2 separate regions of the Homo sapiens genome follow, and region 2 is linked to region 1. A link means that fine-mapping ties the variant in region 1 to the expression of a gene that starts in the linked region. Tissue or cell type: blood mononuclear cells. Region 1 holds a variant in brackets; the other region holds the start of a gene. All regions are shown on one strand. Distances are between the middles of the regions.

Region 1 (16,588 bases):
AAAAGCAAAAAGTTTTGAAAACTTATTTATTTGAGGGAATAATTAAGGAAAACTTCCCTGGCTTTGCCAGCAATTTAGATATTCAAATACAAAAACCTCAAACAACTCCTGGGAAATGCATTGCAAAAAGGCCAACACCAAGAGCTAAAGTCATCAGGCTATCTAAAATCAATGTGAAGAAAAGAATTCCAAGAGCAGTGTGAAAAAAGCATCAGGTAACCTACAAGGTAAAACCTTTTAGACTAACAGCAGACTTCTCAGCAGAAGCCTTATAAGCCAGAAAGGGCTATGGTCCTATTTTAGCCTCCTTAAACAGAATAACTATCAGCCAACAATTTTGTATCCAGTAAAGCTAAGTTTCATAAATGAAGGAAAAATAAACTGTTTCTCAGACAAGCAAATGCTAAGGGAATATGTCACTGTTTGACTATTAGCTAGTTTAACCAAGAAAAGAAGAGAGAAGATCCAAATAAGCTAAATTAGAAATGAAAATGGAGATGTTACAACCAACCCCAAAGAAATAAAAAATATCCTTCAAGACTACGAAGAACACCTCTTTGCAAACAAACTAGAAAATCTAGAGAAAATGAATACATTTCTTGAAACACACAACCCTCCTAGATTGAATCATGAAGACATAAAAATCCTGAATAAGCCAATCATAAGCAGTGAGATTGAATCAGTAATACAAAATTTGTCAAAAAAAAAAAAAAAAAAAAAGTCCAGGGCCAGATGGATTCACAGCCAAATTTTACGAGACATTCAGAGAACTGGTAACAATCCTACTGAAACTATTGCAAAAGATTGAGAAAGAGGGAATCCTCCCTATATCATATGAAGACAGTATCACCCTGAAACCAAAGCCAGGAAAAGACATAACAAAAAGGAAAATTACAGACCAATATCTCTGATGAACAGATAAAAAAAAAATTCAACAAAATACTAGCAAACTGAATCCAACAGCACATCAAAAAGATAATTCATCATGATCAAGTGGTATTCATCCCAGGGATGAATCAATGGCTCAACATATGCAAGTCAAAAAATGTGGTTCATCACACAAACAGAATTAAAGCAATAGCCATATGATTATCTCAATAGATGCAGATAAAGCAATCAATAAAATCCAGCATCCCTTTATGACATAAACCTCAACAAACTAAGCACAGAGGAAACATACCTCAAAATAATAAAAGCCATATATAACAAACCCAAAGCCAACATTCATGTTGAAGCATTCCCCCTAAGAATTGGAACGAGACAAAGATGTCCACTTTCATCACTTCTATTCAACACAGCATCGGAAGTCCTAGCCAGAGCACTCAAGCAAGAGAAATAATAAATAAATAAAGGGTACCCAAATTGGAAAAAAAGGAGTCAAACTATCTCTGTTTGCTGATGATGCGATAATATACCTAGGAAACCCCAAAGACTTCTCCAAAAGACTCCTAGATTTGATAAATGAATTTAGTAAAGTCTCAAGTTCCAAACACAATGTACACTGCTTTACACCAATAGTGTCCAAGCTGAGAATAAAATCAAGAACTCAATCCCTTTTACAGTAGCTGCAGAAAAATAAATCACCTAGGAATTTACTTAACAAAGAAGAGGAAAGATCTCTACAAGGAGAACTACAAAACACTGCTGAAAGATATCATAGATGACACAAACAAATGGAAATACACCTCATGCTCATGGCCTGGAAGAATCAATATTATGATAATGACCATACTGCCCAAAGCAATACACAGATTCAATGCAGTTCCTATTAAAATACTAACATTATCTTTCACAGAATTAGAACAAGCAATCATAAAATTCATATGGAACCAAAAAAACAGCCAAAGCAATCCTAAGCAAAAAGAACAAATCTAGAGGCATCACATTACTCAACATCAAATTCTACAAGGTTATAGTAAGCAAAGCAGCATGACACTGGTATAAAAGTAGATATATAGACCAATGGAAGAGAATAGAGAACTCAGAAATAAAGCCAAATACTTACAATCAACTGATCTTTGACAAAGCATACAAAAACATAAATTGGCAAAAGGACACCTTATTTAATGGTGTGGGGAGTTCTTTGTAGATTCTGGATATTAGCCCTTTGTCAGATGAGTAGACTGCAAAAATTTTCTCCCCTTCTACAGGTTGCCTGTTCACTCTGGATGGTAGTTTCTTTTGCTGTGCAGAAGCTCCTTAGTTTAAGTAGATCCCATTTGTCAATTTTGGCTTTTGTTGCCATTGTTTTTGGTGTTTTAGACATGAAGTTCTTGCCCATGCCTATGTCCTGAATGGTATTTGTAGGGACACGGATGAAGCTGGAAACCATCATTCTCAGCAAACTAGCGCAAGAACAAAAAACCAAACATCACATGTTCTCACTCATAGGTGGGAACTGAACAATGAGAACACTTGGACACAGGAAGGGGAACATCACACACCAGGGCCTGTTGTGGGGTGGGGGAAGGGTCAAGGGAAAGCATTAGGAGATATACCTAATGTAAATGATGAGTTAATGGGTGCAGCACACCAACATGGCACATGTATACATATGTAACAAACCTGCACATTGTGCACATGTACCCTAGAGCTTACAGTATAATAAAAAAAAATGGTGTGAGGAAAACTGGATAGCCCTATGTAGAAGAATGAAACTGGATCCCTATCTCTCATCATTTAAGAAAAATCAACTCAAGATGTATTAAAGACATAAATTTAAGACCTGAAACCATAAAAATTCTAGACGAAAACTTAGGAAAAACTCTTCTGGACACTGACCGAGGCAAAGATTCATGACTAAGACCCCAAAAGCAAATGCAACAAAAACAAAAATAAATAAGTGAGACTTAATTAAACTAAAAAGCTTCTGCATAGCAAATGAAATATTCATCAGAGCAAACAGACAACTCACAGAATGGGAGAAAATATTTGCAAAATATACATCAGATAAAGGACAAATATCTAGAATCTACAAGGAACTCACAGAAACCAGCAAGAAAAAAAAACCAATAATCCCATTAAGAAGTGAGCAAATGACATGAATACACATTTCTCAAGAGAAGATACAGAAATGGCCAACAAATGTATGAAAAAATACTCAACATCCCTAATTATCAGGGAAATGCAAATTAAAACCACAATGGGATACCACCTTACCCCAGCCAGAATGGTCATTATTAAAAAGTCAAAGAACAATAGATGTTGGCATGGATGTAGTGAAAAGGGAATGCTTATACACTGTTGGTGGGAATCCAAACCAGTACAGCCTCTATGGAAAAGGATACTACCTTACCCTGGCCAGAATGGTCATTATTAAAAAGTCAAAAAACAATAGATGCTGGCACGGATGTGGTGAAAAGGCAATGCTTATACACTGTTGGTGGGAATGCAAACCAGTATAACCTCTATGGAAAACAGTATGGAGACGTCTCAAAGAACTAAATGTAGAGCTACATTTGATCCAGCAATCCCACTACTGAGTATCTACCCCAAAGAAAAGAAGTCATTATATCAGAAAGACACTTGCATGTATATGTTTATCACAGCATAATTCACAATTGCAAAGATACGGAACCAACATAAGGGCCCATCAATTGAAAAGTGGATAAAAAAGTTATATATATATATACACACATGCATACATACATACACACACACACACACATACCATGGAATACTACTCAGCCATAAAAAGAATGAAATAATATATTTTGCAGCCACTTGGGTGGAACTGGAGGCCATTATTCTAAGTGAAGTAACTCAGGAATGGAAAACCTAACACTGCATGTTCTCACTTGGAAGTGGGAGCTAAGCTATGGGTATGCAAAGGCAGACAGAGTGGTATAATGGACACTGGAAACTTGGAAGCAGGGGAGGTGGGATGGGGTGAGGGATAAAAATCTACATGTTGGGTACAACGTACACTACTCAGTTAGAGGGTGAACTAAAATCTCAGGCTTCACCACACTGAAATTCATCCAAGTAACCAAAATCCACTTGTACCCTTAAAGCTATTGAAATAAAAAAAAAATTCTGTTAAAGCAATGAAAAGACGACAAGAAAGTTTTATGAGCTACAATATTTGAAAACTTCACCAAAGAACAGAAAAAAATCAAAATAAATAAATAAAAATAAAATCTGCTGAAATTTGGCCTTTTTCTTTCCCAATTTACTGTATCCCAGGAATTTGGGGATCAAAACCAAGAGGAGGGAGATTGTTCCTGGTATTCATGGCACACAGTACACACATTTGTGTTCTCATATATTTTACCTTATATTATTTCTCTCACTTGGATTTTCTTCTGTCCCATGATTGTTCAAACACTTTGAGGCCTAAATCAAGTATCAGTCCTCTGTAGTCTTCCCAGAACTCTCCTGTCAGTTTCTATCTAGTCTCTCATAGCAAAATTCTTAAAATTTTCAAAATATATAAAATCTGCTTTGCATTATAATTAAGTTTTTGTATCCCTCCCCACCCTGCCTCAAGAATATAGGTTGAAATGCTAGGCTTTTCTTTCTTTAGAGGGGGAAACTTCATAGACATTTTATTTAATGAAAATAGACTAATCTGAAATATGTAGGAGTTTATACGTTACTATGCTCAAGGAAGAATTTAAAATCAAGATTTAAACAGATAAGTAGAAAGGTATGAAGCTAAAGTTAATCTGCATAATTCTTGCCATACACTGTCATCCCCATTCTGAATCAAAGCTTTTTTGGATTTTTTCCACCTCCTTAAATAGGCCTGGTTCTTTCAACTCAGATACCTGCAAAAAAAATTAAGGATTCCTGTAGCCTTGAAGGCTCCTCTGAACACTCAGCTTTGAACTTTCAACTGAAAAGTTGGTTTCTTTTCCTTTTTTTTTCCATTTTCCTTTTTTTTTTTTTTTGAGATGGAGTCTTGCTGTGTCACCCAGGCAGGAGTGCAGTGGCCCGATCTCAGCTCACTGTAACCTTCACCTCCCGGGTTCAAGCTATTCTCCTGCCTTAACCTCCCGATTAGCTAGGATCACAGGTGTGCACCGCCATGCCCAGCTAATTTTTTTGTTTGTTTGTTTAGTAGAGACAGAGTTTTGCCATATTGGCCAGGCTGGTCTGGAACTCCTGACCCCAGGTAATCCACCCGCCTGGCCTCAGCCCCACAAAGTGCTGGGATTACAGGCATAAGCCACTGCCTCCGGCCTGAAAAGTCAGTAATTAAAGAGACCTTCCTATCCCCTAAGACTTGGTGACCCCACTCAATTTCATCCTACTATCACATTTGAGGTTATTCATTTAATGTCTCTCTTAAATGGTACAAGATGAACTTCTCCACTCATGCTAGGACTGCATTTATTTTACTACTAAATCTGTAGCACCTCATACTATGTATCATAATAGGTGTTAAATATAAGAATAAATAAATGAATTAGTGATGCCTGTACATTTGCTAAAGGCAGGCTGCACACTTGGTTCTAAGTTTGTAGTAGCCAAGAAAAAGAATTTTAAGATTCATAGTATCCTTAGGATAAAATAAAATAACGATTTCAGGACCAAGTAAGAGTTTGAGATAACTAATAAAAATCAAATAATAGCCGGGCGCGGTGGCACACGCCTCTAATCCCAGCACTTTGGGAGGCCGAGGCGGGAGGATCACTTGAGGTCAGAAGTTCGAGACCAGCCTGACCAATAAGGTGAAATCCCATCTCTACTAAAAATACAAAAATTGGCCGCGCCTGGGCGACAGAATGAGACTCCGTTTCAAAATAAATAAATAAATGCATAAATCTGAATTAACAGCATGCACATCACTGCTTTACTTTCTAAAAGGTGTAGGAATGCTTATTTTAATAAATGAAAAATGACTCTTCCCCTCTTTTAAATTTGTTTCTCTTCCCCTTTTTGTTAAAGTACAAAACAAAACACCTTCCCCCACTTTTCGAATAGTTTTGGCTGTGTCTTTAGGACTGGAAGGAAATTCAGCTCAAATGAATTACTATATTATGAACTTAAGTAAGAATTGTTGTGCATTTTGTACAGAATGCAACTCCTAGGAGTTGACAAATGTTTGTTAAGTGCATCAGTGAGCGACATAGGACCTTCTCCTCCCTACTCTCTTGTCACGGTTTTTATTTAATCAAACATTTATTATTGTTCGATGCTCTTAAATGCCATTTCCTTCAGCTGATTATTTGTATGACAGAAGAGTCAATTAAGCTATTTTGTCCTAAAAATTACGAAAACGAAATGTACAATTGTGAAGTAAAATTTTGTTCCTTTGCAAATTTTAATAAATTATTGAAGTTTATTTTTTGTTTCAAATAATCTGGGCTTCAGTTCTAATAATGGAAGGACAATGTGAAGGCCCAGAATTCAGCATAGCGCCTGGCATTAATAGGAGGTCAGTACATTTTTAGTACATGTTTCTCAAATAGATCTTAAAATTTCATTTAAGAGCGTTTCCTCACGTCACAGTATGTCTCTGGCGTTACTTAATTTTGAAAAACCTCAACACAGATTCTAGTTTTAGGCAAAGCTCAGAAAATTTCTACTTAAGGATATTTCCAAAGCGAAAGGAAGCGCGGAGACGTTCATGACTGGCATCATCTCGCACGTGGTTCCGGAAATTCTCGGTAGGATGCCCTACATCTGCTCTCCCTCCACTAAGAAGAACCTCTTTGTGTGGCGAAAGTAAAAGTATTAGGGCTTTTAAGTTGCCCAGAGTCAAGGAACACGGATAAAGACGCTGGGAGATTGACATGCATTTCGACCAATAGCATTGCAGAGAGGCGTATCATTTCGCGGATGTTCCAATCAGTACGCAGAGAGTCGCCGTCTCCAAGGTGAAAGCGGAAGTAGGGCCTTCGCGCACCTCATGGAATCCCTTCTGCAGCACCTGGATCGCTTTTCCGAGCTTCTGGCGGTCTCAAGCACTACCTACGTCAGCACCTGGGACCCCGCCACCGTGCGCCGGGCCTTGCAGTGGGCGCGCTACCTGCGCCACATCCATCGGCGCTTTGGTCGGCATGGCCCCATTCGCACGGCTCTGGAGCGGCGGCTGCACAACCAGTGGAGGCAAGAGGGCGGCTTTGGGCGGGGTCCAGTTCCGGGATTAGCGAACTTCCAGGCCCTCGGTCACTGTGACGTCCTGCTCTCTCTGCGCCTGCTGGAGAACCGGGCCCTCGGGGATGCAGCTCGTTACCACCTGGTGCAGCAACTCTTTCCCGGCCCGGGCGTCCGGGACGCCGATGAGGAGACACTCCAAGAGAGCCTGGCCCGCCTTGCCCGCCGGCGGTCTGCGGTGCACATGCTGCGCTTCAATGGCTATAGAGAGAACCCAAATCTCCAGGAGGACTCTCTGATGAAGACCCAGGCGGAGCTGCTGCTGGAGCGTCTGCAGGAGGTGGGGAAGGCCGAAGCGGAGCGTCCCGCCAGGTTTCTCAGCAGCCTGTGGGAGCGCTTGCCTCAGAACAACTTCCTGAAGGTGATAGCGGTGGCGCTGTTGCAGCCGCCTTTGTCTCGTCGGCCCCAAGAAGAGTTGGAACCCGGCATCCACAAATCACCTGGAGAGGGGAGCCAAGTGCTAGTCCACTGGCTTCTGGGGAATTCGGAAGTCTTTGCTGCCTTTTGTCGCGCCCTCCCAGCCGGGCTTTTGACTTTAGTGACTAGCCGCCACCCAGCGCTGTCTCCTGTCTATCTGGGTCTGCTAACAGACTGGGGTCAACGTTTGCACTATGACCTTCAGAAAGGCATTTGGGTTGGAACTGAGTCCCAAGATGTGCCCTGGGAGGAGTTGCACAATAGGTTTCAAAGCCTCTGTCAGGCCCCTCCACCTCTGAAAGATAAAGTTCTAACTGCCCTGGAGACCTGTAAAGCGCAGGATGGAGATTTTGAAGTACCTGGTCTTAGCATCTGGACAGACCTCTTATTAGCTCTTCGTAGTGGTGCATTTAGGAAAAGACAAGTTTTGGGTCTCAGCGCAGGCCTCAGTTCTGTATAGGCAATGCTGTGTTATTACTTGAATATAGAATATATAGTTTACAAAATGAAAATTACAATGTTCTCACCAAATATATGCCTTCGTGTGTCCAAAGTATAATTATTTTAGATGCTAATTTTGAATAGTTTATTAAACAGTTATAAATATGCAAAGTAGCTGGCATGTAGTGTCACGGATTTTCTGGATAGAGGAAGTGATTGGAAGTA[C/T]TCCACTTAAAGCCATGGAATTAGCAATAGTTTGCTTTTTAATAGAAGGCCCATTTGTAAGAATGTTGAAAATATGTGTACCGTTTAAAGAAAAAGCAGCTTTAAAGTGACAAACAAAATACCCTTTTTCTTTTAGTATGGTTTATTTTTCTAGGTTTTCTGTCCCTCCCTCAGTAGTGAAGAGTTTTCTTTATTCCTGGCAGTGTCAGGAATATTGGTTTGAAAAGCTGTTGGCCTATCTGGAGTTTGGCCTTGTTAACCTAGTATTCTAACCAGTTAACCAGCCTTAGTATGCATTAAAATTGTATTGTTCAGAAAGTTTGTTTCTCATTTTCTGCAAATTCTTACTTTGAAAATGAATCACCACATAGTATGTCCCTTTAAAGCATTGACGCACAGACAAATGTTTAAAGCACAGTAAATACGAATATATGCCTTTGGATATTAAATTAATGCTTGATGATAAAAGAATCAAACTTTTTTTTTTTTGAGATGGAGTCTCGCTCTGTCACCCAGACTGGAGTGCAGTGGTGTGATCACTGCTCAGTGCAACCTCTGCCTCCCAGGATCAAGCAATTCTGACTCAGCCTCCCAAGTAGCTGGGATTACAGGCGCAGGCCACCATGCCCGGCTAATTTTTTGTATTTTTAGTAGAGACGGGGTTTCACCATGCTGGCCAGGCTGGTCTCAAACACCTGACCTTGTGATCCGTCCGCCTTGGCCTCCCAAAGTGCTGGGATTACAGGCGTGAGCCACCGCGCCTGGCCAAAACAACATTTTAAGTAGAAGATCCAGGTTTTAGTGCAGCTTCTGCCGTTAACTAGGTTAATAAATCACAACCTTGGGGCCACAGTTGCCTTATATGTAAATGAAGTGTTTAGAATAAAATAGTTAAATTTCCTTATTTTTCCCTTGGTGGCTGCCCTGTGGAAACAGTTTAGAATATTTGTTTTGTGTGTAGGAACCTAGTTGTGTTAGTTTACCTGGGTGTTCCACAGCTGATAGTGATTGCCTTGAATAAATTCAAGGGCAATTTATTCATTTTTACTAGGGAGATAGACCTTTACAGCAATCAAGATATTTTTGTCCATATCCAGGTTAGCTGGTAAGAGGATTTTTTTGGAGAAAAAAATGATATTTAGAAAGTTAATTTCTAATTCCGGAATGGAATAAAAACAATATGAGTAGTGTAATCTTGTAGAAAAAGAGTTGTATAATCTTGTAGAATTTCTCATTCTGTGGTACAACCCAGGGGTAAACTATTATTCCAGTAGTCAGTACACTTTTCTAGATAAATCTTGAGTGAAAACCAGCAATTTCTTTTTCCTTGTGGTCTGATTCCTTTTTCTAATCCATGAAGGCCATCTTGTAGATTACATTTATCATTAATGCAAGAATAAAGACAATTCCTCCTGTCAGTTGCGTGAATTTTTTTTAAGAAACAACCCAGTGAAGAGTTCTACCATAGCAAGGCCTAATGTTAGCTTTAGCTTTAGAAAATAACAGTTTGTGAACTTACTTCCCTATATTTGCAGCTGTATCTCACACTATGATTTACAATAAAATTGTAAAGATTGACAATAGACTTAAGAAATAACATTTTAAAATCTATTTTATACTTACCATTTATTATTCTGTTATTTTAGTCTCCATATGTTCATTACATACATAATCTTATTTAATCTTCACACCAAAACTGTATTCTTATGAATATACGCTAAAAGATTAAGTAAAATGCCCAAGGGTATAAACAAAAGCAACATGAAAGTGGAAGCCGTATCTGTCATTTATTTTATTTCCAGAAGCCTAGCACAGTGTCCAGCATATGGTAGATACTTGTAGTGTTTGAATAAATGAAACCAGCATTAGAGCTTTATATACTTTCTCTTAAGGACTTGAAAAGATTAGGAATCTACGCATACACTGAGAGAGAAAAAAGTGAGAGGAAGACTATAAAAATAGAATATTTGATAACTTCTTTATAAAATCTAGAGATATTTATTTTGTGTTTTTTCCCTATGTCCTATCAAATGAGGGAGCACTATTGAAATCTCCCATTGTAACATTGTTTCAGGAAATTTTATCAATTATCATCTTATGTATTTTGAGCAATTTTATGACATGCAAACAAATATAGAATCGTTATATCATCTTAATGAATTGAACCTTTTGTTTGTAGTGACTGCTTTTCTGCTTTAAAGTCTATTTTTTTCTATTATCATTGTCATATATTAACACTGTATGATTGGACTTTTTCCTGCTATCCTATTTTGTGCTTTCCACTTCCTTTGATTTCTCTATGTTTCACTTCTCAGTTCTTTAATTGACTAAATATTTGTTTGTCTTCTTATTTCATGATATTTTCCCCTCTACCAGTTAGGATGTTAATTCTATACCCATGCTTTTACTCTCAAAACTTACCATATTTAACTTAAAAATATCTAATATTAGTATCTTAACCCTCCTTCTTAATGATACTATGGACCTTAGGAAACTTTAACCCTGATCTCTTATCTATAAACTCTCAAGTTATTATCCAGTGTTTTGGTTTAACAATTTTGTTTCCCATGATTGTACCTCAAATTCCCTTGGAGAAGGTCTCTTGGTGGTAAACTCAGTTTTTATTTACTAAGATCGTTCCTTGTTGTTGTTGGAAGGTAGTTTTGCTGTGTTCCTGATTTCAGGTTAACATGTTAAAGATATTAACTCTTTTCTGGTTTTCATTGTTGATAAGAAAGCTATTCGTCTACTTGTGGTTATTTTGTAGAGTGATTTCTTCTTTCTGTTTATTTTAAGGTGGTCCCGATTTCAGTATCTATAGTCACTTCAGAATATCTAATTGTAAATTTCTGTTTTTCTTGCTTGTTTTATGTTGTGTTTCATTTATGTGTGGATATGTGTTTTTCTTCATTCTGAAAAATTTCCAGCCATTTTTCCCCAATATTTCCTTTCTTCCACTTTTTAAAAATCATTCCTGTCACTTTGATCGGGCCTATATTAGATCTTAGATCTTCTCACACTACTCATATCATGTAACCGCTCTGTCCCAGTTTCTATCTCCATATCATTCTATTTTGCTTTGGAAATTGCTGTTATATCCCAAGATCAATATTCCCCATCTTCATTTTAGCCTACCACCAGGTTTTAGCTGAAAATGGCCACCCAGATAGAGAGTAAATTTCCCAATTTCTCCTACAGTTACATGTGGCGATAATGCTAGGTTTTGGTTACTTTTATATAAGCAGAAGTGATATGTACAACTTAATATTCATTCCCTAGAAATCTGAAGTTATTTGCCCTTAATACTCTGCTTCTCCCTTTTAATGGGCTAGAAAGTTAATTTGCTGCTAGTTTGCTGCTACCTTGAATCATATGGCTGAAGATGACTGGGACAATTGCTGTAGACCCAAAGATGAAGTCACATGTACAGAATGGCAAAACAGAGCCCACCTACCTAGCTTGTCCTGTTAATATAGGAGAGGAATACACCTTTCTCTTATGAACACTGCTCGGGATGTCTTATGTCATCAACATTGCCTATAACCCTAAGTAGTATTGGTATAGTCTTGATAATTCTGTCTGATCTGAGGTTTAAGCTATCAATTGGTTTTAAATTTCAGTGATTTTTAAAAAGTCTTATTTGGCTTTTTTTCTCCTAATATGCCTGTTTACCTTTTAGTAATCTCATATGGCATGCTTTTTGTGATTCTGTTTTCATTTTTTATCATTGTTATTTTATCATCTATTAATTATTTCACAACCTGAAGTATTGAGGATCTAAACCTATTCTGTTGATTCTCACTCATGACGGCTTATTTCTTTACATCTTTTGTAATTTCCTATTGTGTGTTCACATGTGTTTGGTTATACTCTATGTAAACCTAGGAGTCTAAATAGGGTATTCTTTGCCCAATGAGGGCATTTTTAAATGCTTCTGCTGGAGAAATAGAGAACCCCCCCTAACCTAGGACTACTTTGGTTTATTGTAAGAGTTTTGGCTTGAGTTTTTCTACCTTATGTCTTGCTCAAAGCATATTTTCTGAATCTTACTTGCTTACTACTCAGATCTCCCTGTTTTGGAGAAACAGATATGAAGGGGTGGCTTGGAAATTTCCTTTATTTTCTGAAATCCCAACAAAACATTCAAAGAATGTTATATTGAGAATCTATTTGTTTTGTAGCAGCTGGGCCCTGTGGAATATCTAGTTATTGATTTGCTAAAAGTGGAAGTCCTCTTTCCCTTTAACCCACACCAACCTAACTTCTGCCATCAACACTTCTCTGAAATAAGTCTTGTCAAGCTCACCAATCACCTGCATGATGCTAAATTCAAAGGACACTGTATTAGTCCATTTTTACACTGCTATAAAGAACTTCCCAAGACAGGGTAATTTGTAAAGGAAAGAGGTTTAATTGACTTACAGTTCCACATGGCCTGGCAGGCCTCAGGAAATTTACAATCATGGCGGAAGGTGAAGAAGAAGCAAGTACCTTCCTTACAAGGCTGTAGGAGAGAGAGAGAGAGAGAGAGAGAGAGAAGGAGGAAGTGGCACACTTTTAACTCATCAGGTCTCACGAGAACTCACTATCATGAGAACTCCCTACCACAAGAACAGCATGGGGAAAACTGTCCCCACAATCTGATCACCTCCCACCAGGTCCCTCCCTCAACACGTGGGGATTACAATTCAAGATGAGATTTGGGTGGGGACACAGAGCCAAACCATATCAGACACTTTTCTGGTATTCAGTTACTTGACTCTCAGCAGCATTAAATACCATGGCCTATCCCCTCTTTTTTGAAACTGGGCTTGGAATTCTATTCTTATAACTTATATGATACCACTCTATTCTAGTTTCCTCTTACCTCTCCAGCAATGTTTTCAGAGTCTATTTTTCTGGCTCCTCTTCTCCTAATCATCCTTTAAATATTCACGATTTCTCAGTGTTTAATAACTCTGCTGCCTCTTTTGTGTAGTGCTCTCACCCCGTGTGATCTCATCCATTTCTGTGGCGTTAAATACTACCTATATGCTATGAATTTCACAATTTATATCTTTAGTCTGGAGGTCTCATCATAGCTTCAGGACCAATATCCCCACTTGAATGTCTCACAAGCCTCTCAAACCAAACATCCAAACCAACTCTAAATATCAGGAAGAGGGTGGAGCAAGATGGCCGAACAGAAACCAATCATTCCCTTGCCTCCCCAGCAAGGACACTGAGTTAACATATGTACACAGAAAAAACATCTTCATAGCAACCAAAAATCAGGTGAGAACTCATAGTATCTGGTATTAACTACATATTGCCAAAAGAGGTACTGAAGTGATTAAAAAACAGTCCTGAATCACAAATGCCACCCCTTCCTCACCCCAGGCAGCAGCAGCCTCTGAGCACTGGGGGAGGGAGAACACAGCAATTGTAAAGCAGTGAACTCAGTGCTGTCCTGTTACAGCAGAAAGGAAAACTGGACCACACTCATCCTTCCCACAGAGGGAGAATTTAAACCAGCCCTAGTGGGAACCTGAATTCCTGCAACTCTCACCACCATGGGCTAGAGGCTACGGCACTCTGTGTCTCCAAGTAAACTTGAAAGGCAATCTAGGCCATAAACTCTTAGGCAAGTCCTTGTGTTGAGTTAGGCCCATAGACAATGGACTGGAAGGGCACACGGCATACAGATAAACCAGCTGGGGCAGCCAAGGGAGTTCTGTCGTCACTCCTCCCCTAACCTCAGGTGGCACAGCTCATGACTCCAAAAGAGACCCTTCCCTTTCACTTGAGGAGAAGAGAGGGAAGAGTGGGGAGGACTTTGTTTTGCCTGTAGGATCCCAGCCCAGCCACAACAGAATAAGGGACTGGTCAGAGTAGTGAGGCCCCTGTTCCAGACACTACCTCCCAGGTGACATTTCTAGATACACTCTGGGCCAGAAGGGAATGGAACCTGCTGCCTTGAAGGAAAGGACCCACTACTGGCAGCATTTATCACCTGCTAACTGAAGAGCCCTTGGGCCCTGAATAACCAACAGTGATACCCAGGCACTATATCAAGGGCCTTGGTGAGCCTCTGAGATTTGCTGGCTTCAGGTGAGACTCTGTACATAACCAGCAATGGTGGCTAGGGGGCAAAAATCTTCTACTTAAGAAAAGCTGAGGGAAAAGTAAAGGGGACCTTTTTTCCCACATGTTGGGTACCAGCAAGGGGAGGAAGGGACTAAGTGTGATCCTGAGGTCTTTGATTCTAGGACTTGACTCTTGGATGAATTTTTGGACCTGCCCTGGGCCAGAGGGAAGCTCACTGCTCTGAAGGACGAGTCCCAGGCCAGGCAGTATTCACAACACACTTAAGAGACTTTGGGCCTTAAGGGAATATCGAGAGTAGTCTGCCAGTACTCCTCATGGCCTGGGGTGGCAGTGGCTGTGGGATGAGGCTTCTCTGCCCTTAGAAAGGGGAGGGGAGAGTGGTAAGGACTGCCTTGTGTGGCTTGAATGCCAGCTCAGCTGCAATACTTTAGAACACTAAATAGGCTCCTAAAGTTTTTGATTTTCGTCCCCGACTCCCAAATGGCACTTCTGGACCCACCCAGCGCTTGGGACACCTTGCTGCACTGAAGGGACGGACACAGGCCTGGCTGGCTTTACCATCTGCTGAATGTAGTACCCCAGGGCATTGAGCAAACACAGGCAGTAGACAGGGAGTGGTTTTAGCAGGCCTTGGGTGAGACCTAGTGCTGTGCTGGCTTCAGGTCTAACCTTCTGCAGTCATGGTGGTGGACACAGAGGTGTTTGTGTCACTCTATCCCCAGGTTTAGGTGGCTCAGAAAAGAGAGAGAGAAAGAGAGACCCTGTATATTTAGGAGAAAGTAAGGGAAGGAAACAAGAGCCTTTGCCTGGTAATCCAGATAACTCTCCTGGATCTCATCCAAAACCATCAAGGCAGCACCTGTATGAGTCTACAAGAATCACAACATTGCTGGGATTGAGGTGCCCACTAACGCAGATATAGTTTAGATCACAAACCCAAGTCCTTTTAAATATCTGAATAGCCTTCCCAAGAAGGACAGCTAAAAATAAGCCCAGACAGTGAAGACTACAATAAATACCTAACTCATCAATGCCCGGACACCAAAGAACATCGGCTAGCCTCAACAGCATGTAGGAAAACATGATCTTACTAAATGAACTAAATAAGGCACCAAGGATCAATTCTGGAGAAATAGAGATATGTGACCTTTCAGACAGAGAATTCAAAATAGCTGTGTTGAGGAAACTCAAAGAAATTCAAGATAACACAGAGAAGGAATTCGGAATTCCAGCAGATAAATTTAACAAAGAGATTGAAATAATTAAAAAGAATCAGGCAGAAATTCTAGTGCTGAAAAATGCAATTAGTGTACTAAAGAATGTGTCAGAGTCCTTTAATAGCAGAATGATTCAAGCACAGAAAAGAATTGGTGAGCTTGAAGACAGGTTAATTGAAAATACACAGTCAGAGGAGACAAAAGAAAAAAGAATAAAAAGTAATGAAGCATGCTTACAGAATCTAGAAAATAGCCTCAAGGGGCAAATCTAAGAGTTATTGGCCTTAAAAAGGAGGTAGAGAAAGAGATGGGAGGAGAAAGTTTATTCAAAGGGATAAGAACAAAAAACTTCCCAAACCTAGAGAAAGATATCAATATCCAGCTATAAGAAGGTTATAGAACACCAAGTAGATTTAACCGAAAGAAGACTCAAGGCATTTAATGATAAAACTCTCAAAGGTCAAAGATAAAGCGTTCTAAAAGCAGCAAAATAAAAACAAATAATATACAACGGAGCTCCAATATGTCTGGCAGAAGACTTTTCATTAGAAACTTTACAAGCCAAAAGAGAGTGCCATGAAATATTTAAAGTGCTGAAGAAAAAAAAAAAAGGCTTTTACCCTGGAATAGTAAATCTGGTGAATATAGCTTTCAAATACGAAGATAAAATAAGACTTTCCCAGACAGACAAAAATGAGGGATTTCATCAATACCAGACCTGTCCTACGAGAAATGCTAAAGTACTTCAATCAGAAAGAAAATGATACTAATAAGCTGTAAATAATCTCCTGAAGGTAAAAACTCACTGGTACGAGTAAGTACACAGAAAAACACAGAATATTATAACATAGTAACTGTGGTGTGTAAATTACTATTGTCCTAAGTGGAAAGACTAACTGATGAACTAATCAAAAATAATAACTACAACAACTTTTCAGGACATAATCAATACAATAAGATATAAATAGAAACAATAAAAAGTTAAAAAAGGGGGGATAAAGTTGAAGCATAGGACTTTGATTAGTTTTCTTTTTGCTTGTTTGTTTATGCAAATAGTGTTAAGTTATTATCAGGTTAAAATAATGACTTATATGATA
Region 2 (16,588 bases), 43 kb before region 1:
AAAAATAAATCAGACCAGCATATAGATAAAATAAGCAATCTGACTGCATATTTCCACATTTGAGTGCATCATATTGGAATTACTAAGCACAGTTAATATGACAGACATTGGGAAATTCACTTAAATTTTCCACCTGCTTCAGGTTTCCCAGATGCAAATGTCAAATAATAAAAGTCTTTCTTTCCAAGGTGCTATCACATGCTTAGGTGAAGGACACTACAGGAGGAAAAATAAAACAAAAACTGTTGTCTTTGCTCACAAAATGAGATCTTATAACCTTACCTAATAGATTGGTTAACCACAAGGCCAGATCTTCTTTCATTGGTAGCAAATTAGCTTCATGTCTGCTGGCTAGCCATTGGCTATACTGATGCATATCAGAGAGGCCAGGTCCACTGCGTACCTTTGGGCTCAGAGCAGTGCACATTATTTATCCACTTGTAATACCTGTTTTGGAAACAAAAGAGCAATTGCTTTTTATACAGACTTCTCTCACAAAATGTTGTCATCATGACATTATAATGAACTGGATCCGCGGGTTTTCTGATGACAGTTCAGTTTATTAATTATTAACCCCATGAAACACTATTTGCTTTATCTGTACTGGCCCTCTCACTTTTGGCCAAACACTTAGTAGGAAAACAGCAGCAATCAAAGGTCAAATAGAAAATCAAACAAGAAACTCCAAGTTTGTATGAAACAATATACTTGGAAAGAGCCAGCTTCTAAGCAAGAAATTCCACATATTGAAACACGAGAAAAAGTTAAAATGTTAGTGCCCAATTTGTTAACTCCCATTGTTTGGGCTATTTAAAACCATAGATTTTCACCAAATTTTATGACTGAACACTGGCAATGACAGCATTTTTACAACTCACTGTAAACACATGATCATTACCCTTAAAAATATAGCCTAAAAGGTTAAGCAAAGTACTTCTTTTTTGGAGACGGCCAAGCAATCATGGACTCACAATTTAGAGAACTGGGTGAGAAGCAGGGGAAGAGGTACACCCAAAGACTCTCTACCACACTTCTCTCTTGCAGTCAAAGAAACCAAAAAAAGAAAAATAAAAAAAAAAAATAAAAAAATAGAGGATAAGTGACTTCACCAAGATCATACAGCTAGGTCATGACAGAACTAGGCTTGAACCTGAGTCTTCATATTCCCAAGACCACTACTCTTTCTGTAATGACACATTTTTACAAAATGGAATAGCCAAGAACCCATATTGATGATAACCCAAGCACTGCATCATAGTTCTAACAAATGCTGCCAGAGGTGTTTGTTTGTCCTCTGCTATTGCTACAACAATCTCTTTCTCTTTCTTGTTTTTTATCTTTCCACTTTATTTGTTTTACATGCTGCGTTTTGTTTGAAAGTATCTTTAGAGTAGAAGTACTTAAATATCTTACATCTATAAAAACAAGGATGCTTTCATTAACCTGATCATATTGTGAGCAGTGCAATCCCCTACTTGGGTTGTAGAAAAGGTATTTGAATATATATTTGGCCTTGAATATGGCATTTTTGTTTGTTTGTTTTGTATTTTTTAGTAGAGATGGGGTTTCGCCATGTTGGCCAGGCTGGTCTTTAACTCCTGACCTCAAGTGATCCACCTGCCTCGGCCTCCCAAAATGCTGGGATTACAGGCGTTGAGCCACCATGCCCGGACAGAATATAGCACTTTTGTATGCATTATTTATAGGATGTAAGACTACGGAAGAACTAATGAAGCAGTTAATGTAATAGTCATGTTTAATAACATGCAGGATTCTACGCTGTATATAAATATGCTTATGAAATAACCAGATGCATTATGACTGTATGACAATGAAAATGAAAATACTTGCAATAGGCAAGAGGTAATGTTTATATGATATCATGAGGTTTTCAGTGATATTGCAGTATTTATGGCATTTTAAAGTTACCAATAAGTAATATATTCTCCTTTTGGTTTTATTATTTGAAACTCTACACAGTATTCCTTTCCAGTTAACCTCAAACTCTAATTCACTTAACATAAGTTAATTTATTTTAAATATTGCTTTTGAAGAACAAATAAGACACTGGTGTTTAGAAAAATGCAAAGTGGGAGCATCTCTCAAATATTTTGCTGTAGTAATAGAAAAGACTGTTGGGAGTATGAGTAAGTACCTAAAAGGTATCATAAATATAGTATTTAAAAGCACAATTTCATTTCTAATTAAATTACTGTCGAGTAATTTTTGAAAAAAATACCATAAATTTTCTCTGAAAACATCTTATATATATCTATCTAAAGTCAACCATTGAAAATGTGAACTGCTTTCAATACACCTTGTCATACATTATTAGATTGTCATTATGGGAATCAGAACACCACTTTTTATTATTTCATAGTTAATAATGATGTTATCCATATAAAGTCCTAAAGTTTTCTCCAAATTCTGTGATTAAACATGAAAAACCCAAAGCATTTTCTGCCCCAGTTAAAAAAAAAATATGTCTAGTCCTAGAAAAACAAAACTTCTCCCTGTAGCTGGTTAAGATTCCTATATGCCTGCTGGCCTCAGAAACATTTAAGTAATACATATAAGCACATGATTCATATACTTAAATAACTAATTGAAATCTTAAAAGGGTTACCTCTAAAATGCCTGTCTTCTCAAGACACAATCTCTTCCACTACTTTCCTGAAAGTGAGATGTGGCTGTTCAGTAACTTTACCTACACCCTATTATGTGCTCTGTGACTTCCATTTAAGCATCAGAGTCCTATTTTGCTCTATAAAAGCAAGAAGACACCTCAGATTCTTAAGCTCATTGTCCAGCAAATAATTTATCAAGGGATAGTTTACAGTAAGCCTAATGGCATGTAACAATTTCAATGAGCCAGAAGGACACAATCCTTTCCCTCAAAACCTCTAAACAGTGAAGTTTTTATTTTCTTTGACAGTGGCACATTTATTTCTCATGTACTCTGTCCTGTGTTTTGCCAGAAAAGTAACTCAAACTACCTTCTAATAATTAGAGATGAACATTAAGTAAAAACAATAAGAATAATTAAGCAATTTTTATTTTGTTACTTTGTATACAGTCAAAATTTTAGTGGTGAGAAAAAAGCAAAAACACAGTTACATTTCCCCAGGAGACAGAGGTGAGAGAAAGAAGGCTTAGTGAGTAATTAACATGCAATAGAAGTTACACAATTAGACATATGTCAAATATGTAGAAACCTAAAGTCACTGTCATAGATAAGGACTCTTCTGTTTAAGCCCCTTCTTAAAAGAATTCAGATTCTCAATCCAATTTCTCATGATCCTTTTTTTCACATTTCAAATCACTGCCAAACTTAAATGACTCAACGGTTTGGCTGAAAGTCAATACCTGCAGGTCTTGGATTTAGATTTGGCTAATCCATGAATACGAAACATGAAAAATGGATTCAGCTAGCATGATCAAAATTTGGAGTATGGAGAATTTACCCCATGGTGAAGTAGTTTCCAACTAAAATGATTATATTGTGGTGAAGAAAGATCAAATTAATTTATCTTATTCCCATAAAAAGATCACTATGGAATTTTACCCTCCTTGTAACTTTTTAAAGAAGTGTTTAGTCAATATGGATCAGATGAATTACATCGTAAAGAACAAGCTACACAAAAAGATCATTTCAGTTCTCTTGAATTCATTCAAAAGTGTTCAAAACCACAAGAGATGCCAAGGGGTAACTTTTTAAAAAGGTGGGAAATAAAGTGACTGATGATCCACTAGACTTGAAGAAAGCAGTAGGTTAGGGAGAAAGAAAAACTTTTTTGTATAATGTGCCTAAACACTGAATGATGTTTCCAATAAAGTGTATATAGTCCAAGTATTTTAAAAGCTTGATAAGTAACTTTAGTAACTATTAAACAAAGCCAATCACTTTTAAAAGGGGAGTAAGTACTCAAATACTTCTATGGCTCCTCCAAGCTTTCTCGGTCTACCTAAAATGGATAACCAACCCTTAGGTCTAGGAATCCAGAAAAATAAAACTTCAAGAGAAAAACATGCAGAAACTTAATACTAAATCCTTCAAAGACTGTGTGTGTATATATTTTTTCTTTCTTTCCATAGTAGAAGTGATTCTGGAATAACAATTATGAATATGATGAGACTTGAAATAGCCCAGGAGAAAAAGAAAAAAATAATGACTTTGTAAGTAAAATATCACATGTTTAAAGACTCTGTCTAGTTTGTTGTCCCAGAATCCCAGCTGAAGACATCATAGTTTTGACTCTGAAGAAAAAGTATTCTTCCATGCCACCTAGAGGTGTTCTTTGACTATGACCAAGATGATTTCTGGCTTATCTCTAGGCTTTGCTGACATGTTAGAGAAAATGCATTGCAACATTACATAGAAAAGCAACTGGAAAGACAAAAAACATGAAATGATATACACTTCTGTCGGCTATGAGATTTCACTTAGAAGCCTGAATAATGGATAGAATATTGGAACTGGAATCAGAAGTCCAGGGTCAAATAATAGGTCCACTACCTAACCATTTAGTAGCTACTCTATTCTAGTCATATGAATTTTCCTCTTTGTACCTGTGTTTTCTACTATATACAACGGAGGCTGAAAACTTAAAGATAATTGTGAGGATTAAATATTTGTGCCAATGCTTGGCATATATTTAATATTCGATATGTTTTTTATTAGCAAAATAGAAATGATCACCATCAGAAATGTGCCAAAATAAAACTTCTATTGACCTATCCCAAAACGGAAAGCAATTCTGTGACAAAATAGGAATATTTTATAGAACTCTAAATAATTAAGAAAAGACAAAGGACAACGGGGAGAACAAATAAATGTATTAATGATACAGTAGATAATGGATTATTCCAAGTTTTCTTCATATGGAGAAGAATGCTGCCCCTAAGATGATGATTAATCAGTTAATAGGGAAATGCTATATACCTCTCAAAGTAAGTGTGAGAGGACATCACTACCACCACCCCATCTACACACACAGACTCAACTGTGAACATTGAAAACAATGAATCCTAATCAACCCACAGTCAAAGGTCTCCTCCCTAAAGGTAATCTTTGCTGTCATCTGCAGCATTGTTCCCCACATCTATTCAGTTTCATGTGTTACAGGTGTCAAACACTGAGGAAATAGTTTATTGGTCAATCACGTTACCTTTTAAAATTAAAAATAAACAGTGCTCCAAATCGAATACCCTTCCAAAATCTGGAAAGAGAAAATGCCATTTTCCTAGCTGAACTCAAAGAATAAACCACCCAGGAAAGTTCTAGATATCTCTTTCATCATTGTGAGTTCTTCACTCTTTTGTGATTCATTTTGGCTAATTAATAGTATCTCACAAAATATACATTTTCAACCAATGTCATGGATACAAAATCTTACTCTAAAGGTCTAATCAGAAAATAAAGTCCACAATTTCAACAGAAAGGCAATTTCAGACCTCGTAATGGGACCTCCACCTTGGGTTCAGTAGAGCAACTTATCCACAAATTGAAAAGCACCAAACATAAAGCAAAATGACACTTAATGGTAGTTTATCTAATTCCATAATAAAAATCTTTAAATTGAAAGGAACCTTACAATAACGATATATTCAAACTCCTCGTAATTAATAAGGGGTTGGTAGCCTAAGAGGATATTTTGCCCACAGTAACAAGACTGTTTAGTCATAATTATTAAAAGTATCCTACTCAGCTCTTGTGATCCTTAATTTAGTGTAGTGCTGACTCTCTTTTAGAGATCTCTTTCTTATCCCACAGTCCCATCTTGATTTGTCTTGGGTGAAATGATGGTGTAGTTACAAATAACAATTTCTTCTCAAATCATGATTTAAAAAAACCTGAATGGGAATTGATTTTCTATATTTTCATGTTGTTAGGGATATTTTAAAGTTTTAAAGAAATCATACTAAAACATCCTTCCAAACAATTTAGCATAGGTTTTTTTAACCCCTACCAGATTAGCTTGGAACATAATTAAAATAGAAAACCATCTGACAGTCTAATGACAGTCTAATGACTATTGTTAACAATATTAACAACTAGAATATTTAAGGATTTACATCAAAATTTTATCTAAGTTGAGAAAATTCTTTTCTGTTGTTTTAATATAAAGATTTCTGTTTTAGTTAACTATAATGTAGTTAAGAACCAGCAGGGTTCTACATTCTGTGGAAATATATACACATATGTGACATGGTCTCACATAAAGGAGTAAAATTAGCAAAGTTTTAATTGTATTGATGCTGAAAACATTTAATACAGAAACTTACATAAGCCTCTTACTTAATTTTGACAGCAGATTATTTTCTACTGTTACTCCAGTTCATTTCTCTAGTCAAAAAACATTGAGTGGAAACCTTCCTAGTTGCTCAGGTTTAAAGAAACAGTTGGATCCTGTTTGGACCTTAATATCAAAACCACAAAGATACCAAACCAACCTTACAACATGCCCTGCAGTTTTAAACAAAAGTCTCTCTGTAAACAGTTACAGCCTCATCATGCCTTCTCAACCAAGGTAACTTAGTTTTCCAAAGTTTCCCTGAGTCTTCAATGCAGACTTCCAGTCTTGAAGTAAGATTTCTAAGTAACACACAACATACTTAGGGTTAATATAAGACCAGGTATTTCACCATACTCGAAAGTTTGAGGTTTAACTGAAGTTTCTAACCAAGATGCTAAAAAATTCCAGGGCAATCACATGACCTTTTGCACCTGGTGAAATATTTTTTTGCCATGTGAACTTATTTCCCAGTAAAGCACAGTCCATAACACCACAGCATAGTGTTTAGCAATAAAGTAATGAAATAAACCCAAACTTCAGTAGCATTCAGGCTGAAATCCAAGCTACCTTTTCCATGTAAGGGACCATTCAGGCAGCCCTGTGCAAAGTCTCCAATGTGCTTTGCAAAGGCACACTGTCCCATGCCTCATCCATCTGTCCCTTACCTTCTCTTAGGCAGTCAAAACCCAGACACCCATGTTGGAGAGAACCACCAGAGCCACCACCTTCACCGCAGTTAGAGGAAAGCATTCCTTGAGAAGGAGTTCATTGATCAATATCAAAGACAGGCTGGGCAAATCAGACCCCAGCTGCAGTTAATCAGTGTCCACACTGCTAAGAGTTTGGAGTAAAGAAGCACAGGTCTTGTTCTCTGCCTTGCCTCTGTGAATCTCAGGGGATACGTGGGGAGGAAAAGTGGACTTCCTCTGCCAGGCTGGTACATCCAAACTGTCTAAGCCTTTATTTTAATACTAGGATGTCAAATGGGTGTTCCTGTGCACAAGCAGATCTTATTTCCTTGGCATAAGATCTCTCATACACAACTGATCTAACCTTGTTGGAGAGGGTTGGAGGAGATAATTTTATAAGAATAAAGTTTTGCAAACTCTTCACTGTAAGAAGATCACGGAGGTGAGAGGATGAAGATGAAGAAGATGGAGAGGGTAAAGACTGTGATTTCAAAAAGGTTAACTGGGAAAAGAATTAACAACCCTCCCCCAACCTCAATTGTTTTTAGAATGTAGAAACAGAATCTGTTAACCCTCGCTTTTGCTCCCTCTTCATTCAAGACAATGGAAACTTCTTCGGATACCTGGGCTAAGTTAATGGTAATTTACCATACTGAGTTGACAGAATTTAATTTTGCCAGTATAAATAATGTCTCCAAAGCAAAATTGCCTCCTTTGTTCCCCAAACAATTTCAGATTCCAGTCTCAACTTTGGACTGAACAAAAAGAACGATACCACGCAAAATCTCCCCAAAGTGTGTTGATATATATCGGCTAGCGTTTGTTTATTCACATAAAACTCAATTTCATCAAACTCATCAGACACAGTGAGTATCACCCCAGATCACACATGTGGCGCTCTTTCCTCCCATCCTGGCCTCAACGACTCAAGTAAAACATTCAGGATCAGCCCTTTAAGACCATTCTGGCTCTATCCCACCCCACCATAACAGACAATGCTGAGCATGCATTACAGATACTCTTGTGCACGAATGCATATGTGTGCATTTATAATCGATGTGTTCATTAAAAATCCTCACTCTGTCCCTGGTTGGCAGAGCCACCCCAGCGGGCTTACGTGCTGCGGTTGTCCGGGGTGTTCCGCAATAGGGATAAGGAACACATGGTTGTTTCCAGAGAATCAGAAAGTCACCCCCTGCAGTGAATACCCACTCTTAGAGAAAGAGCCTGTCCAACTGTCCGCGGCTCTTCACTCTTCCCCGCCTCGTTCCTGAGGTTATTTTTTAATGACCTCTCCCCTCCCCCGCCGCCCCGGGTGCAGTAGACAGGCAGGGGCTCCCGTGAGCCCCGGCTGCGGTGCGCGCACGCTGCGGCGGCGTTGGCGCAGAACTGGGCCAGCCAGTCGTGCTCACCCCCGCGTCCCGAGCTGGGCTGCTGGCGGCTCTCAGAGGCGCTTGGGCTCCGGGCTGGGCTCCTGCAGCTTCTCGGGGCCGGCCCCCTCCAGGCACAGGTCCTGCAGCAGCCGCTCCCCGCACCCCACCAGCCTGGCGGCAGCGGCAGCAGCTACAGCCGCACTACCCCTCTTCATACTTCTCTGATGGCTCCTTTTAGTGCTGTTTGGGAAAACGATTTTTTCTCCCTGCCAGAAACAGATTTCCTACATTTCATCAGTCCTCATAGACCGAGCGGAAGTAAAATGCTTACTTTTTTTGGTGGACGCAAATGCAGTTGACACTGATTTACCCTTCAAACGGGGAGAGATTGTATTACAAGCCCTTGGCAGCAATTCCGAGGTTGGGGCCAAGCTCCAGCCCCCTCCTTGTCCCCCAGACACTAACCTAAGAGAGAAAAGGTGGGGGCTGGGGAGGGGATCATATTTAACTCTAGAGGTTTAACAGAGTCAATAGCTTTAGCACAATATTAAAATTGGGTGTTGGAAAAGTTTTTGCTTTCCTGGCCAGTGATTTTGCAGACGGAGGCACGAGCTTTCCAGTAACTTCGGCCACTCTTCATTCCAAATTGAACATTTTGATGTCTTACAATTCTCTTTAAATATCAGATTTTTAGAAGAGGCTGTACTCACGGCTGTTTTTGCTTTACCAAAGGAAATACAATTCCACCCTTCCTTCTTTCAGCCTCAGCTCAGCATTATGTTGAATGTCAGAGACAATTGTCTCCAACTGTTGTTTATTAGTACGTGTATTCTGAGATGAAACGTCTTCCATGAAGTGGACAGATGTTCAAGTGTCTGATTCACCTCTAATGCGCGGGGACCGCTTGCTGAGTGTGCTGATCCCCACAGGTTACCACCTCCCATGGAGCATAAATAAAATGTATTACACTTTTTATTTTGTTTTGTTCTCATGTTCATCAGTTTCATGTATATTGCCATCCAATGTTTACAATGGCAGTGGTACAGGTATTGTGATCCTTGCTTGGATACCATTTTTATAATGATGAGTTACCTAGCCCCACTCCCAAATAGAAACTACCTGTACATCCACAAGCTAAATGATGTGGATGATTTTAGATATAATTTAAAAAATATTCACATTTCACCTTTATTATTGCCATTATCTGGCAGAAACTGCATCAGTTATTTGCTTCTAGTGGCAATACATTTAATAAAGAAGAAGAGAAAACCGATTGAAAAGTTTGGAGTCCTTGAACTCCGAACTTTTTATTTTAGTTCAATTTGCTTTTGCAGCTATCAGGTCCACATTTCCTCCTTAGCTTTCTAAAAGAAGGGAAAAATAGTTATTCTTAATTTTAAGGAGAAACAGCATTTTTAAAAGGTCAACATAACAGCTTGGATAAACATAAATAACAACAAAACATACAGAACTCATTACTGATGAGTTTTAGTAAACGAATCTGAATGATAAAATTTCTTAAAATGTGATCAGATCTGAGTATTCCTAGAGCCCCAACAAAGAATTTTGAGTGTCTGAACACATACAATTTAGTAAAAAATCAAATGTTCTTGATAATTTTTCCTGATCAAAACATCATCAGCCAATAAATGCTAATTTAAGAATTATCCAAATATGTAATGAGTTCAAAAAATTTAGCACCTTGAACTTTCAAAATCTTACATCCTATTTCTCCCCAGATATGAATATTCTTGTCACATTGTTCATTATTGGTGTTATAAAAAGCTAAGAGTAAGGCAATGTTTTTGTTGATTCAGGAACAATGCTAAATACAGTTTGGGGAAAAAAAGGAGGCTTACAGAGGAATTGGGAAAGCATAATCATTCAAAATTACTCCCTCTCCATGCTCATTTCTTCCAGGTATTTTTTTTTTTGTCTTAAATTTTGCATTATGTCAGATCCTCTGTCTCTCAGAAAGAGCGAAAAGAAAAATACGAGAAGAAATAAATAATGTGTTTTTTCTTTCATTAACATCTAAGAGTTGTACTGAATATTTTTTTTGGTGACAAAAGAGAAGTAATACAAAAGATTTCTGAAGAGACACGGATACAGTGTTTTTATTTTAATTTTTTTAGCATATGTAAAAATTCCCATTTGATTTTTATCTTGTTTTTCAAAATCAATATTTCTATTTATATATTCTGATCACTCACTGATATATTTGTCAAAGATAATCTTTTGTCTAAGTATTTTCTTAGTTTAGTGTGGACTCAACCCAAACTGTTCACCTTAGGAAAATGTAGTCCAACTGAAGCAACTATAGCTTCTCTAATGTGAATGCAAAGGAAGCAAATACTTCAATAAGATGAAAAATGTTTAAATACATCCTTGAAACTTAACACCATTAAAAAGAAGTCAAGCCAGATTTAAACAGTTTAGTTTTTATTTTCAAGTGATCACAGTTAGAGGACTTTAACACGGGAAATTTCTGCATTACTATGTGTGTCCCACATTCTAAACTTTCAACATTGTCTCAAACATGAATTTTCTCATTTCTCTAATAAATACTTTTTTGAGTTTAAAAATGATCAATAAAACACGTTATTTTTCCCTCCTATGTAGATAACTCTCCTTTTCTCTCTTAGTCCTTCTCCCAAATGAAAATAATATATGTAGTACTCACTCTGAAAAGTGAAGCAAACCTTCAATAAATGATTGAGGTTAGAGGACACTTTGAGAAAAAATTAAATAACACGGAAACAGCCACTGGGTTAAATTTGGTAAAATAAATTTCCAGAAGTGACCAAGAAAGACTTATATTCCTAAACAGCTTCAAAGGAGCAGTTAAAAATGACAAAAGACAGCTTGGGAAGCAAGTGAGAATAATGATACAGAAAGCAGTATGAAGACATGCAATGGTATTAAAAAATACATGAAGACATATATTTAATAATAACTTAAATCATTTACTTACATTTTGTTGACATACTTCCTCAGTGAGGTCAAATATGTTTATTTTTCCCAACCTAGCATCTTAGTCTATAATATAAGGCCTTCAATTGACATATTTTGAATTATAGTTTTTTAATGTCATAAGGCAAAGAGAATAAATTTTATAAATCCTAGCATAGTCATTACAAATAGTGTTACGAATAAAAACAGACTGTTTCTGAAATTTTAAACGATAAATGCTATTACTTTTCACCACCATTCATATATAAAACTACAAGGATAAATCAAAGAAATTTCATATGTAAAGTTCAAGGTTTACTCTCCATCTAATATGCAATTTAAAAAATCTATTACTTTACTCTCAGTGGAGAACTTTAAACTTTTTAAGTACAACACAACAGTAGCATAAATATTAATTCCCTCCTGTGCAAGACTCATTTTTTTCTGGCAAATTGTGTTAGGTATAAGCATATGTTTTCTAATTTTTACATAAGAAATAGATTAAAAATCATTTTGTGAAATATGCCATTTGTCTTATCTACTTTTATTCATTTATTTTTTATTTTTTTATTTTTTTTTTTGAGAAGGGCTATTGCAGTGGCGTTGCCATGGCTTACTGCAGCCTTGACCTTCAGGCTCTAGCTATCCTCCCATCTCAGTGTCACGGTAGGTGGGACCACAAGTGAGCACCACTGATATGGTTTGGCTCTATGTCCCCATTCAAATTTCATCTAGAATTGTAATCCCCAAATGTTGAGAGAGGGACCTGGTGGGAGGTGACTGGATCATGGGGTCCGTTTCCCGCATGCTGTTCTCATGATAGTGAGGGAGTTCTCACAAGACCTAATGGTTTTAAAAGGGTGGCACTTCCCCTCTCTCTTTCTCTCTCTCCTGCTGCCATGTAAGACATGCCGTGCTGCCCCTTTGCCTTTCCCCATGATTGTAAGTTTCCTGAGGCCTCCCCAGCCATGCAGAACTGTGAGTCAATTAAACCTCTTTTCTTTATAAATGACCCAGTCTCAGGTAGTTCTTTATAGCACAGTGAAAACAGACTAACACAGCCACCAACTGTGGCTAATTTTTTATTTTTATTTTTTTTTTTTTTGCAGAGACACGGTCCCACTATGTTGCCCAGGGACACAGTCCCACTATGTTGCCCAGGCTAGTCTCAAACTCCTGGCCTCACATGATGCCCTACCCCAACCCTCCAAAGTTTCTGGGTTAGAGGCATGAGCCACCACACCCTGCCTCATCTAGTTTTAAATATCCTATGCAGTACCTTCTGTGGTGTGACGTCTGTTGTCTAAGTTGAAGGTGTTTTTTTTTTAAGTTTTCTTTCTTTCTTTATCTTGTAGTTTGCTTCTAAATCTTAAAAAAGTCTATGTCATGTTACTTTAATCACAAGTACCTCAAGTATAATATAAATGTTTAATGTAAAATATGTTTATTTCAACAACCTTTCTTGTCTTTTCCACCACTACATCTCTGGCATGTAGAATATCATTAGACATATAGTAGACACTCAATAATTGTTGAAAGAAATGAATGATTATTTTAGAAGCTGGTGTCTTAGAAAATATACAACTAATTGGTTATATCTTTATATATTGTCTCTAATTTAATAGTTTAGAATCCAGAATAGAAAAGCAATGTTAAAATAACATTACAAATGATAGTTTCACTCCCAAGCTAGCAGCATTTCATCTGGTAAAATGTAACTAGAGTTCACTAAAACAGATGCTTGCCTGTGTGCCAGGCTTATAAATGAGGTCAGTCTGTGTCACTTGTCACTTCATTAAAAACCTAGGTTCATTTGGACTCAAGGTTTAATCATAGCCAATATAACAAGAGTGCAATGAAAAGCAATAGAAAATATTACTACTGCAGTGGCTTTCAAATTTTTATTGTGACCCACAATATGAAATACATTATGGAACAGACACATAGAACACTTAGACACAAATAAACTAAGTATGTTTCACAAAAACATTACGTACTTTACTATTATATTGCACTCTGATATTTTTCTACTTGACATTATTATAGTCTCTTCTATGCTATTCAATTTTAAAGAAATGCTATTAGAGAGCTGCTAAATTTGTTTTATGACCTACAGTTTTAAAAAAATCTGACTGTAAAGAAACTAAACTAAGGGGAAAATCAATAAAAAGTGAGGTAAGGTCTCAATTAACAGATGGTTTCATTACAAAGTATGAAACAGATATGTTTATATATTGTTATTGGTAGACTTGATGCAATGTAATGTCACAACATCCCAAACATCTTATACCGTTACACCTCCATGCCTTTCCTCATGCTAACCAAAATGATCTTTTACCTTCACTGTCTCCCTCTGAAGAAATCTGATTCACTCTTCTAGGGAAAGCTTAATTGTCACCTTCTTTGTGGTTCTCTTGATCTCTCTGGTAGAGATATTTTTTGTGACTCTATGTCCAGTGCTCTGAGCACTTTGCTATTTCTTTTATTTCTCACTTATAATGTAGTATCACAGTTATTTGTTTATGCATCTATCTCACTTACCAAATTGTGAGTCCTAGAGAGTAGGGACTAGACTATTCATCCTTATATTTCAAATCTTTATCACAATACCAAGCCTAAGGTTGCCAAATAATTGAGTAAATAAATAAATAAATAAATAAATCATAAAACCACTGCATATCCAAGGGAGGAAAAAGTGGGTGCCATTGGGTGATAGACGGGATTCAGCAAGAACTGTGCTCATCAAAGGAAAATTAAATGGAGATCCCTCTGTAAAGACAATACCAGTTATTAATTTTGCATCTTTATTACTAGCACAATTTACTTATAAGTGAGATTTTAGTATCACATTTCTTGGGATTCTCTTGCAGTTAGATATTGCTCCAGTTATTCATTGATTTTTAAGTACACTAATAATTTCAAATTTAGGATTACTTTGTTGAAGAATGAGAGGTTTGCTGAAACTTCCATTATTGTAACTATAACACAGTTCACAAATACGGAATATTTTCCAACTGTTGATTTATACAAAGCACTTAAAGATATGACACTTAAAATGATCTCATTAAAGCATTTTGGTAGTTCCAAATAATGGATCAGGAAGCATCCTATAAAAGGGCAGTACTCCAAGCCCAAAGTGAGAGAACTGCCTGGGAATAGGGTCAGTGTCAGTGGGGCTTTTCTTAGCATAAAGGAATATTGCCATTCTGCTATGATCACAGTAGTCACTTAGTCTCTAGAGTCATTTGCAAAGAAGTTTCGCCAGCCATCATCCCCACAGAGGCTGTCAAGGAATAGGCATAGTAAATTTGTAATATCGTAGTCACTACATTTAGCAGAGTAATCTGGAGTCCAGATTTGGTCACAGACGAAATCAGGCAGGGTCCACTTCCAGCTTCTTTGCTTGTTTGCTAAAAGTTACAGGCAAATTATTTTACCTTTCAACTATCAGTTTTCACATCTGTAAAGTGGGATTAACAAATACCACTCTCTCATAGGCATGTCTTGAGAGTTATATAAGTTAATACATGTAAAATAGTTTACTGTTTGGCATATAGCAAGTTTTAAATGAATGTTAGGTATGTTATTGTTAAGTGAGTACCTAAATATTCTTATTGACTCATTACAACAATTCCCTAAGATAAAGATATTAGCAGCATTAAAAATACAAACGTTCAGAGAATCTTATACATCCCTTCTCTGAGTCTTCCCCTCCTCGCTTCCTAACATTCCATTTTACTCTCTTTAGACATCCAGTGGCTTCATGGTTTGTTGGGTCACTCATTCATTTATTCTCCAACCTCTTCTGTGTTAGGCACTTGTATCAAAATGAAGTCACATTCCCTGCTTTCCGGGAGCTCATTCCAATAGCAAAAATGGTTTTTAAAAAGCTTACCTAATGACACACATCTATTAAGCAGCATAGGTAAGATTTAAACTCATGCCTGAGTCTGACTGATTTGAACATATGCTCATTTCCCAACACAAATGGGAAGCAACTTCAAGCAACTTATTTGAAGCAACAGAGCTTTCCTTTCCTTCCCTTCCCTCCTTCTTCCCTCCCTCCCTCCCTTCCTCCCTCCCTTCCTCCCTCCCTTCCTTCCTTCCTCCCTCCATTTTTTCCTTTCTCTCTTCTCTCTTTTCCTTCCTTTCTTCCTTCTATCCTTGCTTTTTTCTTTCTTTATAAGGAGGTGTCAGGAGTCTATATATCATTTTTAAAAATGTCTTAGATAAAAACTAGAAAGATTTTATATTTAAAAGTTAAAATGTGATAATAAAATTATTTGAGAAAAAAAATCATTTTTGAAAAGAAATAAGTTTCTGTCAGGTATCCTAATTCCAAGCCAGATGAGCTGCCCCATGTGGTGAAGATTCCACATCACAGAGAATTAAGTCAAATACCTCACAGAAGTATGAGAAGGAACTCATGAAAAGAATACCGAAGAAGGCTTTTGAGGAAAAACTTTTAACCAGGAAAAGTCAAGAGAAGGTTTCAAATCCTACACAGAAATAATCTCTTTTCTTTTGGATCTGGTATCAGTCGAGGATAGATGGGGGTCAGGGAAGATGTCTTTTTAACTAGCTCCCAAGCCTAAGCGGGCTGAATAGCCAGGAGACTGAAAGTGCCTCTTAAAGGGGAGGGGTTGCATTTTTATTTTTAATAATAAGCTGACTAGGAATTGAGTCAAACAAATTTGACTTCAAAATAAAATGCAGAATAAGAACATACCAATCAAGATTCAGAGTTGGATTAGATTATCAGAGCTAATAGTAAAAGATCTTCCCTACCTATACCACCTAGTTTCACACATTAATCGCCTCTGGAAACACCATCATGGACATACCCAAAATAAAACTTGAACAGGTTTCTAAGTATTCCTTAATCCAGTCACATTGACACATGTAAAACTAAGTTCACACATCTACTCCTTGTCAATTTAGCAACCATATGCATCTCCTTAAAACTATACTTAATTTCCAAAAAGAGGCAATAACAAAATCATACTTATGCCTAACATGATACTACTAACATGATGCAACTATGCTGCATACAACCAAAAACACACTAATCTCATCCCCACAATTGGGCTTTCGTAATTTCAACATTCAGATTTATGGCATTTAGAATTGCATCTTTCAGGATTATGATCCAAACTCCTATGGCAGAATCAATAAATGAGAGGAGAGGAGATAAAAGTCAGGGAGATCTTTCGAGTGGTTATTCTTTTCTCTTTTCTTCACACTCTTTCTTCTCAGTATGCCCATGTTCTAAAAAAGC

Evidence for each region.
Region 2: it holds the start of GAS2, and the variant in region 1 is fine-mapped to the expression of GAS2 in blood mononuclear cells (TOPMed, PIP 0.98).

The regions. Positions count from the first base shown.
Region 1 is chr11:22,616,079-22,632,666 of GRCh38, reverse strand. FANCF (FA complementation group F) reads left to right here and starts at 6,844. Exons shown (of 1, transcript NM_022725.4): 1 at 6,844-10,134. The coding sequence starts at 6,857. The coding sequence ends at 7,981. It also overlaps a transcript of GAS2 not described here. RefSeq lists enhancers at 6,865-7,054, 6,381-7,280, 7,145-7,354, 7,735-7,784, 7,795-7,954. The variant C/T (reference allele first, on the strand shown) is at 8,188.
Region 2 is chr11:22,658,709-22,675,296 of GRCh38, reverse strand. GAS2 (growth arrest specific 2) reads right to left here and starts at 8,686. Exons shown (of 8, transcript NM_001143830.3): 1 at 8,398-8,686; 2 at 283-447. The coding sequence starts at 427. RefSeq lists a silencer at 8,447-8,606.